Linked DNA regions of Homo sapiens: region 2 is linked to region 1. Evidence: fine-mapped expression QTL. Tissue or cell type: whole blood. Region 1 holds a variant in brackets; the other region holds the start of a gene. All regions are shown on one strand. Distances are from middle to middle.

Evidence for each region. PIP is the estimated chance that this variant, and not a neighbour inherited with it, causes the effect.
Region 2: NUMBL starts here. The variant in region 1 is fine-mapped to the expression of NUMBL in whole blood (TOPMed, PIP above 0.99).

The regions. Positions count from the first base shown.
Region 1 is chr19:40,629,675-40,635,158 of GRCh38, reverse strand. LTBP4 (latent transforming growth factor beta binding protein 4) reads right to left here. Exons shown (of 30, transcript NM_001042545.2): 30 at 5,341-5,484. Among named protein-coding and RNA genes, the nearest start is that of LTBP4, 31 kb to the right of the region's middle. RefSeq lists an enhancer at 3,669-4,259. The variant TG/G (reference allele first, on the strand shown) is at 2,809.
Region 2 is chr19:40,688,055-40,694,323 of GRCh38, reverse strand. It overlaps NUMBL (NUMB like endocytic adaptor protein), which reads left to right and starts at 3,673. Exons shown (of 10, transcript NM_004756.5): 1 at 3,673-3,864. The coding sequence starts at 3,841. It overlaps COQ8B (coenzyme Q8B), which reads left to right. Exons shown (of 15, transcript NM_024876.4): 14 at 1,287-1,373; 15 at 1,951-2,794. The coding sequence ends at 2,289. RefSeq lists silencers at 2,981-3,220, 3,541-3,880 and enhancers at 2,567-3,504, 4,720-4,769, 4,443-5,382.

The sequences.
Region 1 (5,484 bases):
CATAGCTTTTTTTTTTTTTTTTTTTTTGAGACAGAGTCTCACTCTGTTGCCCAGGCTGGAGTGCAGTGGTTCGATCTCAGTTCACTGTAACCTCCGCCTTCCAGGTTCAAGCTATTCTCATGCCTCAGCCTCCCGAGTAGCTGGGATTACAGGTGCCCACCACCACACCCGGTTGCTTTTTTGTACTGTTTTGTAGAGACGGGGTTTCACCATGTTGGCCAGGCTGGTCTCGAACTTCTGGCCTCAAGTGATCCACCTGCCTCGGCCTCCCAAAGTGCTAGGATTACAGGTGTGGGCCACCACGCCAAGCCTACTAGCTATTGATGATGATGATGATGATGATGATGATGATGATGATGCCAACGATGACAACGACGATGACCCCAGCCTGCAAAACCAAGGGCTGGCTAGCAAAAGCTCGGGGCTCGCTGAAGACTTTACGAGCATCGGCCACTAGGGGGCGCAGCCGGCTTGGGCTGCGCCGGCGCGCGGTGGCCATCGGGGGGCGCTGCGTTGCTTGTCTGGCGAGCGCGGTGACCGCCTGGACTACCTCCCTCTGAACATTCCAGAGGAGAACGCGTCGGTCCCGGCCAGTGCCAGAAGCCCCAACGCCAGGTCTGGGGGTTAGTGCAGGGGATGCAGGCAGGATAACAATTAGATCCATGGGGCACACCCTCCAGGCCCGGCGGCGGGCGAGATCTCAGAAGAAAGATCCCACTCCCAGGATGCTGAAATTCGATTGCAGTTTTCCAGCACTGTTGGCCAGCCCTGTCGCAATTCCTGGGACATTTATGCAGCAAGGTGGTTGTGGGGGCGGGGTGGGAATGGGATACCCACAGAAGATTCCGAGGAAGGATGAGAATACTTGGAAATTGCCTGCAACCTTTGTTTGTGTGAGTTTTTCTTCTGTGAATGAGCTTTCGACAGATTCTCAAAGGGATCTAGACGCCCAAACAGAGACTGTTCAGAGCTTTGTCTCTTTCTCCAGAAAGCCTTCCCTGATCATCTCTCAGACTGGATCAAGTGTCTCCTCTGGGCATGCATGCCCTCTGATCTTCCCCCACCGCAGCCTGACCCCTGCCTGTGCCTCCCCCATACAGCACAGGCTCTCATGTGTGGTGATGTGTCGGTGTCCCCCATGAAGGCAAGGGCCTGGGATTTCTCAGGCACCAAGATTGTCACCATTGTTGTCCAATACAGGCCTTAGATACCAAAGGAAAGACATCTAACAGACACTTGCTCTCTTACTTCTAGGCCTTCGGAAGTGCTGTCCCCTCCACCTGGAACATGGTTCTCCACCTCTTTCTCTTTTCTTTTTCTCTCTCTTTCTTTCTTTCTTTCTCTTTCTTTCTTTCTTTCTTTCTTTCTTTCTTTCTTTCTTTCTTTCTTTCTTTCTTTTCCTTCCTTCTTTCCTTCCTTCCTTCCTCTCTCTCTCTCTCTTTCTTTCTGACAGAGTCTCACTCTGTTGCCCAGGCTGGAGTGCAGCGGTGCAATCCTGGCTCACTGCAACCTCTGCCTCCCGGGTTCAAGAGATTCTCCTGCCTCAGCCTCCGGAGTAGCTGGGATTATAGGCACCTCCACCCCTTTCATCTTGCTCATTTCCCTACAGTAATCAACTCTCAGCTCCAACATCTCCTCCTCCAGGAGCCCTCCCTAACCACCCCCCAAGGCTGGGTTAAAGTTTGTGTTCCTCGAATTCACTTATTGCAAAGCAGGAAAATATTTGTTGAATGAATGACTGAGGAATTAGTGGTTGGGTCGGGTTCCCTGTATCAGCTGGAGGGTAACTTTCTGAAACGCTTTGTAGAGTCGGCGTTTTTAAAGAAGGGCTTTATTGACTTATGATTCACATACCACACAAGTCACCCATGTGTAGTGTATAATTCAATGATTTTTGGTACAGACAGTTTTGTGCAACTGTCACCCCTTTGTGGAGCCTTGAGCCACTCCTTGTCTGACACTCCTCCCCACCAAGGCCTTGTGTTAGGTGTTTCTCACTGTCCTGTTGAAGGGGATGGGGTCTGGCCTCCTCCTCCACCCTGGGAGGGAGAATTGGTAAAGAAAAAGACCTAGCCAGGCCAGGTGCCGTGGGTCATACATGTAATCCCAGCACTTTGGCAGGCCAAAGTGCAGGAGAATCACTTTAGCCCAGGAGTTTGAGATCAGCTTGTGCAACACAGTAAGGTCCCCTCTCTACAAAAAATAAAAATTAAAAAATTAGCTGAGCATGGTGGCACATGCCTGCAGTTCCAGCTAATTGAGAGGCTGAGGTGGGAGGATCACTTGAGCCTGGGAGGTTGAGGCTGCAGTGAGCCATGGTGGCACCACTGCACTCCAACCTGGGCAACAGAGCAAGACCCTATGTCAAAAAAAAAAAAGAAAGAAAGAAAGAAAGAAAAGAAAAGGAAGAAGGAAAGGAAAAGAGAAAAGAACAAGACCTTACTATCTGCCCAGCCACAGGGCTCAGCATATCCTGGGAGGCCCAGGGTTATGCCAACAATGACTGAGCCCTTGCTCTGTACCAGGTGACATTCTAAGCACATATATGACAATTCATTTAACCACCACCACCAATCCTGCAGGGTAGGCGCTCTTAGTATGATTCCCCGATGTAGCACAGGAGGCTGCTGGGCATGTGACCCCTCCTGACACTCAGCGGGTGGGCTGGAGATCAGGTCAGGAAGCAGCCTCCAATCCACAATTTATGCAATTTCAGCAGTGCCTAGAGGATTAAAACTGGAGCCTCATAGGCCAAATAGGCCCCATAGGGTACTATATTAGTCTTTTTCTGTTTGTTTTTGGTTTTTT[TG/G]AGACAGAGTCTTGCTCTGTCACCCAGGCTGGAGTGCAGTGGCCCAATCTCAGCTCACTGCAACCTCCGGCTCCTGGGTTCAAGCGATTCTCCTGCCTCAGCCTCCCGAGTAGGTAGTATTACAGGCATCCACCACCATGCTCTGCTAATTTTTGTATTTTTAGTAGAGATGGGGTTTCACCATGTTGGCCAGGCTGCTCTTGAACTCCAGACCTCAGGTGATCCACCTGTTTCAGCCTCCCAAAGTGCTGGGATTGCAGGCATGAGCCACCGTGCCCGGCCCTATTGGTCCATTCTTACTCTGCCATAAAGATACCACCCAAGACTGGGTAATTTATAAAGGAAAGAGGTTTACTTGATTCACAGTTCTGCATGGCTAGGGAGGCCTCAGAAACTTACAATCATGGCAGAAGGCAAAGGGGAAGCAGTCACCTTCTTCACAAGGCGGCAGGAGAGACAGCGAGCCAAGGGAGAAGAGCCCCTTATAAAACCATCAGATCTTGTGAGAACTCACTCACTATCACGATAACAGCATGGGGGAAACTGTCCCCATGATCCAATCACCTCCCACCAGGTCCTTCCCCGGATTACAATTCTGATTACAATTTGAGATGAGATTTGGGTGGGGACACAGCCAAACAATATCAGATAGTTATTAAAAATATACATTAAAAAAAACTTTTTTGGAGACAAGGTATGCCTTTGTCACCCAGGCTGGAATGCAGAGGCACGATCACAGCTCACTGCAGTCTCGACCTCCTGGGCTCAAGCAATCATCCCACCTCAGCCTCCCAAGTAGTTGGGACTACAGGCATGTACCATCGCACCCAGCTACTTTTTTGTAGAGATGGGGTCTCACTATGTTGCCAGGCTGGTCTCAAACTCCCGAGCTCAAGTGATCATCCTGCCTTGGCCTCCCGAAGTGCTGGGATTACAATCGTGAGCCACCCCGCCAGGCCAAAAAAAAGTATTAACAATGGGGAAAATTCCCCTTCCTAGTCTAACCAAGCCTTAGGCAGAAGGTAATGTGTGCCTCAATTTTCCCTGCTTCCTGCTAACATTCCGGTTCTGGTCTTTGCAGCATATGAGTTTGAAACCCTGGGGACACAAGAATTGACAGGTGGGTGAAGAATGACAGGTACAGTTTTGTGGGTTTTTGTTTTTGAGATGCAGTCTGGCTCTGTCGCCAGACTGGAGTGCAGTGGCGTCATCTCGGCTCACTGCAACCTCTGCCTCCTGGGTTTAAGTGATTCTCCTATCTCCGCCTCCTAAATAGCTGGGATTACAGTTGCATGCCACCATGGCGGGCTAATTTTTATATTTTTAGTTGAGACCAGGTTTCACCATGTTGGCCAGGATGGTCTTGATCTCTTGACCTCGTGATCCGCCTGCCTGGGCCTCCCAAAGCGCTGGGATTACATGTGTGAGCCATCGCGCCTGGCTGAGGTACATTTTTTTTTTTTTTCCCAGCTTGGCCCAGTGCCAAGTTGATCACCCACGATTCCCGACCCCTACTCCTGCCCTAAGTTTATGCTGATCTAGGCCGTTCTTGTTTTTTAGGGAGGAGGAGTCTGGACTAGGAACATGGCCAGTAAGCAGGCAGGGCACATGGAGGAGGTCCGTGCTGGGCACTCCACCATCACACACAGAGCTCATTCCCGCCTCCAGCTGTCAGGACTGCCGCTCCATACTCCATCCACAGCCAACTCCTAGCTGGAGCGTCAGGTCTGGGTTTGGCCCTCCAGGGACTCCTGCTCCCTGCTCTTGCCCCACTTGTTCCAGGACAGCTTAAGACTTCTAGGCCAAGCACGGTGGCTCACATCTATAATCTCAGCACTTTGGGAGGCCGAGGTGGGAGGATCACTTGAGCCCAGGAATTTGAGACCAGACTGGGCAACATAGGGAGACCTCATCTCTAAAAAATAAAAGCTGGGTGCGGTGGCTCACACCTGTAATCCCAGCACTTTGGGAGGCCAAGGTGGGTGGATCACCTGAAGCCAGGAGTTTGAGACCAGCCTGGCCAACATGGCGAAACTCCGTCTCTACTAAAAATACAAAAATTAGCCTGGGTTGTAGTGTGCACCTGTAATCCCGGCTCCTTGGGAGGCTAAGGCAGGAGAATCGCTTGAAACCGGGAGGCAGAGGTTGCAGTGGATGGAGATGGCGCCAGTGCACTCCAGCCTGGGTGACAGAGTGAGACTCCATCTCAAAAAAAAAAAAAAAAAAAAAAAAAAAATCCAGAGGCAAGATTGCTCTCGAGATGAAAGAACCAAACAAAGAGAAGGGAAAAGAGAAAGACGCATGCAGAAACAGAAATGAAAAGACAGGATGTAGAGGTTAGGCAGAGAAAACAAATCAGAAAGAGACAGAGATGAGATAGAACGACAGAGACAGAGAGAGAAGGAAGACAGAGACCAAGAGAGGCAGAGAGACAGACGAAACTAGGGGTCAGAAGGGAAGGGAATGTCATTTAGTGACTCAAAGCACAAACTGGGGTAGACTTGGAGAAATAGACAGGAGGAGGCAAAAGATAGAAAATAGGTGGTTTTTAATGGAAAATTTTATAAAAGGGAGAGGGCATGTAAAGGGGCCCCTGGGCCAGGCCCGGGACCACGACATCAGTGGGAGGCGCTGGTGGAGGCGGGAGCAGTGCAGGGCGTCGCAGCTTCCAGGCG
Region 2 (6,269 bases), 59 kb before region 1:
AGTGGTCTCTAAGCCTGGGGGTGGGAGCTCAGGGCAGCTGTGGAGAGGGGCAGAGGGGTGGCTGGGAGATGCCCAGCTGGCAGTCCATGGGAGCAGACGGGCTAGAAGTTGGGGACAGAGGTGTCTAGGGGTCTGGTCTGGGGACTGGTGGGGCCACCTCTGAGACAGGAACAGGAAGAGGAGGTGATAACCCCTTACACACAGGCCCCTTGGGGCCCTCTCTGCCGGCCACTGAGGCACAAAGCTGAGACCCTTCTTCTCCCCACTGACACCCTCCCCTCCCACCCAGGCCTGCAGCCTTTGCCACTTTATAAAAGCCCTGGCTTCTGAGGACCACAGGCCTGACAGATGGCCAGACATGCTCGGGCAGGGGGAGCAGAGAGGGAATGGAATTAATCCCGAATCCCCCTCCTCACAAAAAAGGGCAACCCAGTAGTGAGTGGTGTGACCCGGTTCCACTCCCTACTCCGGGTCTGCTTCCCCTTCTGTGAAATAGGGACCCCCGTGCCCACCTCTTAATAATGGTAGATTATAGTATTTACGGTGCTTCCTGCATGAGACACAGCGCCAGGCAGGCCACAGGCATCACCTTCTTTATCCTCCCAACAGCCCCATGAGGAAGGCACTTTTGGCATCCCCACTTCACAGATGAGAAAGTGGAGGCCCAACAGGCCGGCAGGTGGCAGAGCTGGGACGGAACCCTAGCCAGCTGGCCCCAGCTGGGCATCTCTCCATGCCCACAACTCCTGCCCTGTGTGTGTGAGCTCATGGCTGGAGAGCTGCTCTGCTCCACACGCTCATTTGCTAAAGCAAGGTTCACCCAGGGCCTCCTCAGCACCAGACCCTGTGCCCCGTGCGACTAAACCCAACTGGGATCCTTGCTCTCACGGGGCTCAAAGTCCAGTGTGGGAGACAGAGAGATGGCCCCTGGCAACTTTGGATGCAGTTCTGGGTCACGCTCATACCCGTCCAGTTGAGTGTTTGGACTCACCAGCAGCCCTGACACTTGTTTCTTGCACTGTTTCACTGTGGCAGTTCCCGGGCAGGCCCCACATTGCCCTCTAGGTGGGCAGGATCCCTAACCACCTCCACTCCCAGGCTCTGGAAGAGTCTTTAAGGGAGTCACAGACAGGCAAAGTTGGGAGCAGGAAGCTTCCAGGTGAGGGAGGGCCCAGGCAGATGAGAATGGAGGTGGGTACATGGGAGGCCCAGGCTTCCAGCTCCTCTTCTCCAGAGCCCCCTTGAGCCCCGGCCTTTGTCCCTCTAACTCCCACCCGTCTCCCCAGGTGGTGAAGGCTGCAGCTGATGGAGACAGAGACTGTGTCCTGCAGAAGTCCAGGGACCTCAAATTCCTCACAGGCTTTGAAACCAAGGTGGGGAGACACTGGGGGAGAAAGGGGCTGGTGTCTGTTGGTGGGGTGCAGTGGGGGGCTGCTTATCTCCACTGAGGAACTCGAGTAGGTGATGGGGCATGTCGATACCCGGGGACTGGGGGACTCTAGGAGGGGCTTGTCTCCACTAGGGAGAATGGAGGCTGTGTGTCTATACCTGGGGAGTGGGTGACTCTAGGAGGGATGCTTATCCATGCTGGGGGCTTTGGGGAGGAGTGGGGGGAGGTGGCTGCCTGACTTCTCAGGAACCCTGGGAACATGGGCACCGTGGATCTGTTCAGGAGGGGCGAAGGCCGCTTCTCTGTTGTAGAGAGAGTAGAGGGCTACTTGTCTGTTGGAGGCTCTGCAGGGAAGTAAGGGGTGCTTACTCGGGGAATAGGCAGCTGCTTGTCTAGTCCAGGCTCTGGAAGGAGTGGAAGCTGCTCACTCTTGGGGGAGTCGGGGCTTGTGTTGATGGTGGAGACTGGAGGGAGTGGAGGCTACACGTTGTTTCTGGGTTATGCAGAGGGCTCTATGTCCACACTGGCTGCCTTTGCTCTCCCCCCACCCCCACTCCCAGGCATTCTCCGACGCCCACGTGGAGGCAGTGATGATCCTGGGGGAGCCTTTCGCCACCCAGGGCCCTTATGACTTTGGGTCGGGGGAAACGGCCCGCCGCATACAGGACCTCATCCCGGTGCTGCTGCGGCACCGGCTGTGTCCCCCACCCGAGGAGACCTATGCCCTGCACCGCAAGCTGGCAGGGGCTTTCCTGGCCTGTGCCCACCTCCGAGCCCACATCGCCTGCAGGGACCTCTTCCAGGACACCTACCACCGCTACTGGGCCAGTCGCCAGCCAGACGCAGCCACTGCCGGCAGCCTCCCCACCAAAGGGGACTCCTGGGTGGATCCCTCATGACAGCCTCCATGGGGGATTCAGTCCCCAGAGCAGGCCGTACCCTGCTGTAGTGCCTCTTATCCCTTCCCCGTCTGCCCTGGGTCAGAGGAGCCCCCTTGGGCTTCCCAGTCTTGCCTGGCTCTCCTCCTTGGCCCAGGAGCTCAGGATCCCTGGGGCTGGGGAACTCCCAACTTCGTGCCCTAGATCCTGCACCTCCCCACTCGAAAGTGGGTATCCGAAAACTAAGCCAGGGAAGCGGTTAACTTATCTTTGCCAACATTTGAGGGAGCCTTGGGCCGCTGCATGTCGTTATGCAGATCAGACTCATCAGGGGGAGCCCTCACCTCTGCCTCAAGCCTCCCGTGGAAGGCGAGATGGTCCTGGAGGCAGTCCTCACCTCTGCCTCCCTCGCTCCTCCAACAGCTGCCTTCTCCCGGGTTCCAGCCTCTCAGTGTGTTGGAGAGGTAGGGGTGCGGGGTGGGGGGGAGCTGAATCTTCAATCGGAATAAAAGCAGCCCTCCCCTTCCCCCAGCTCTTTTCTCTGCGCTAGGGTTGGGGGGAGAGGGGGAGGAGCTCGCCAGCGGCCTCCAGGTGCAGATGGCCAGCCCCCCTGCACCCCCTTGTCTGAAAGCCTCAGCCCTGCCTGTGCCATCTGTTGCCGGGAACCTCCTTCTCGCCTTCCCCACCCCCCCCCACGTGCTGACCACCTGCTCTAAGGGCTGTGGCAGCTGAGGCCTCCCACACACACAGTGCCTCTTGGCTGCGGGCTCCCTCCCCTCACTCCTGGCAACCTCGCCTTTACTAATGGGCTCTAATGTCCCTGCCAGCTGCTTTGCCAAACCCACAGGATTGGCGTAGGGGGCGGCGGGGGCGCCGTAGCGGCCAGAACCGCGCCCTGGTCCCACCCCGGCGCCCCCGTTCCCAAAGCCGAACCGATCGCGCATCAGGACGCCTTGGTCTGTTCACACCCCCTCCCCTTCCTTGCAAAAAGTGCCTCGTCACCGCTCCTGCCCGCCCCCGCCGGGCTGGGGAACCATGGGGTTAGCGGGAAGATTTGGGGGTGTGGGGCGGCAAGGCGCCTCTAGAAGCAACTCTTTCGGACGCGGAGCTGGAGGGGATCTGAGGTCAGGTGTCACGGAGGGAAAGGGAGCCCAGGCCAGGACGGACCGGGGGAAAGGACTCGGCGATGTTCATAGGCATGCTCAGCTCGGGACTGGCCAATGGGCGTGGCGGGGCGGTGGCCGCGCCGGGGAAGGCGGGATGGTGTCTGCGTGTGGGCGGGGTCTTCAGGCCAAGGGGCGGGGCGGGGCGGGACCTTTCTGCATATACGGCAGGCGGCGGGCCAATGGGCGGGGTCGGGGCGGGGAGCCGAGGCCGAGGGACGCTCCCCCGCCCCCGGAACGGAATCCTCCCGGGAGCCGAGGAGGCTCGCGCGCGTGCATCCCGCACCATCCCCCGGCCCCGGGCCCTGGCCGGCGTCAGACCGAGCTGCCGCCGCCACCACCGCAGCAGCAGCAGTCGGGGAGCCAGGCCCAGCCAGGGCCGCGGGAGGCGGGGGCGCCCGGGCCCTGGATGTCCCGCAGCGCGGCGGCCAGCGTGAGAAGGGCGGGAGAGGGGGGCTCGGGTCGGGGGCGGCGCCGCTGCTGATGTGGCGGAGGGTGGGAGGCGGCCGCGGCGCCCGGATGGAGAGAGGGTGCCAAGGCTGGAGAGGGTGGTCCCGGGTGGGGGTCCAGGAACAGGCCCAACAAGCCAAAGCCCAGGAGACCGGGGTCTTGGGCACAGACCCCTGGGCCATCTCTTGCCAAGGCCCTGGAAATAGGGATCCTGGACACAGACCCCCCACAAAACCAAGGACAGGGGTACAGAGATTCTAGGTACAACTCCTAGAACTAGATGGGGATGGAGATGGGGTCGGGGACACAGCCCCCGTATCAAACCAAGGCCTCCAGGACGCGATTCCAGACACAATCCCTACCTCTCCCTGCCTAAGGGGGTCTCAGCACAACAACTGCCTAGGTACGGTCTCGAGGATGGGGTCACTGGGTACAGCGTTCCCACCACGCCAAGGCCTAGGGGGACTCCAAGCACAGCCTGCCCCCAGGTCTCAGAGGCACCCTGGGCACAGCATCCCCCCAATCCTTGGGCGGAGTCCCAGGCACAGCCACTTCTCAAAACAAGGTCCCTGTGCCTGGGACTCCACCCCACCCCAGCCTGAATAAAATAAGGACAATTTCAGGCAACCCCCAATCCCTCCACCCCCTGGCTTGGTCATGGGTCCCAGGGCACAGGATCCCTAGGCCACCCCCTTTGTCCCCAGGGCTGCCCAGCTGTCCAAGAGTGGCCCCACCCGCAGACAATGCACCGCTTCCCCCTCCTGGACCTGGCCCTCAGGCTCCAGGATACAGGCTGGGCTGGGGGCGGCTCCCCAGGGACCGGGTGCAGCCCTGTCTGTCTGCAGTGTCTGCGGTGACGGTGACGGCGGCTTTGTGTGTGGTACCTGGGGGGAAGGGGGGAAGCAAGCGATGGGGAGGTGGCTAGGAGTGTGCCCTGTGTTTGTGTGACTGTGGCTGTGTATGTGTGTGTGTGTGTGCACGCGTACGCTGCAGCTGGTGACTGAGGAATCCTGTGTCGTGTGTGTGTGCTTGTGGTGGTGTCTATGATTGTGTCTGTGACCCTAGTATCTGTGTGACTGTGTATGTGTGTGTGACAGCTGCTCACTGTGCAGAATCCTGTACTTTTTAGTCTGTCTGTGTTTGGAGGTGTGCATGGTTGTGACTGTGGTTGTCTGTGATTGTGTCTTTTGTGACCCTGTGTTTGTATGCCTCGGTAACTATAACTGGGTATGTGACAGTATGTGTTGAGTCTGGGGGTGGGCATGCGTGTGACTGACAGGACGTGGGTGGAGTTGTGACTGTGTGTGAGTGGAGTTGTCTATGGCTCCATGTGCATGTGTGACCCTCCCAGTGACTGACAATGTTTATAGTTGTGTCTCTACCTGATTTTATATACGTGAGTGACACACACCTGTCTGTGCAACTCTGCCTGTGTGACTGCCATTGTGTCTGAAGTCACATTGTATCTGTGTGACTGGGGTTGTGTGACAGTATTGTGTATGACAGTGGTTGCGTATGCAGAACCATGTCTGAGTGTGTGACTGAGGTTGTATTAATATAAATGACTGTATCTAGCAGTGTGTGTGATAACGAGTGATTGTGTGTATTTCTAGCCTTGCATGTGTGATTTGGGTTATGTATTTGACTTGGTGTCTGAAACCCTGGCTATTTAGAGGGATTATTTGTGTGTGACTAAAGCTGTGGATGTGTCTCCGTGCTGGTGCCAGGAAATTATGTTTGTAGGGGTGTGTATATGATTATGGCTTCCATATTATTGTGTTTGACCTGCATGTCTGACCCTGGGTGACTATAGATGTCTGTGTCTATGTCATCATCTGTGAGAGTGTGGGGTCTGTAGCTGTGTGCCTGTTTTTGTCTCTGTGTGTATGTGCTGGACTACCTGTGTTAGAATGTGTGATTTGGTGATGAGATTGGCCCCTGACTGTGCACATGGCTCCGTCAGGACCTGTGTCTTCTGTGTAAACCCAGCTATAAATGCCACATCCTGGTCACTGCATTTATGTGCATACACTGGACTGTGTACTTGTGACATGGGAAACTAAAACTGTGTGCTTATGTCTCTATGTGTGAGATATGTGTGTAGGTGGGGCTTGTGACTTTGTGCACCTGTCCACACGGGGCTGTGATTCTATATGGCCACATACTTGTCTGTGTGACTTGTGTGCCTGCATGAAGAAAGGCTATATGTTTCGCTGCATTGGAGTGACATGGTACAGCTGTGTATGGACACTGGGTGACGGGATTATGACCATGATAGGTGGCTGGGTCACATGGACATTGATGCTGTGGCCATGCCTATAGGACCACCATGGCTGTGTCTTGAGGGAGGCCATCCTTGGGGACAGTTGTTTGTGGGTGGTTGCATGC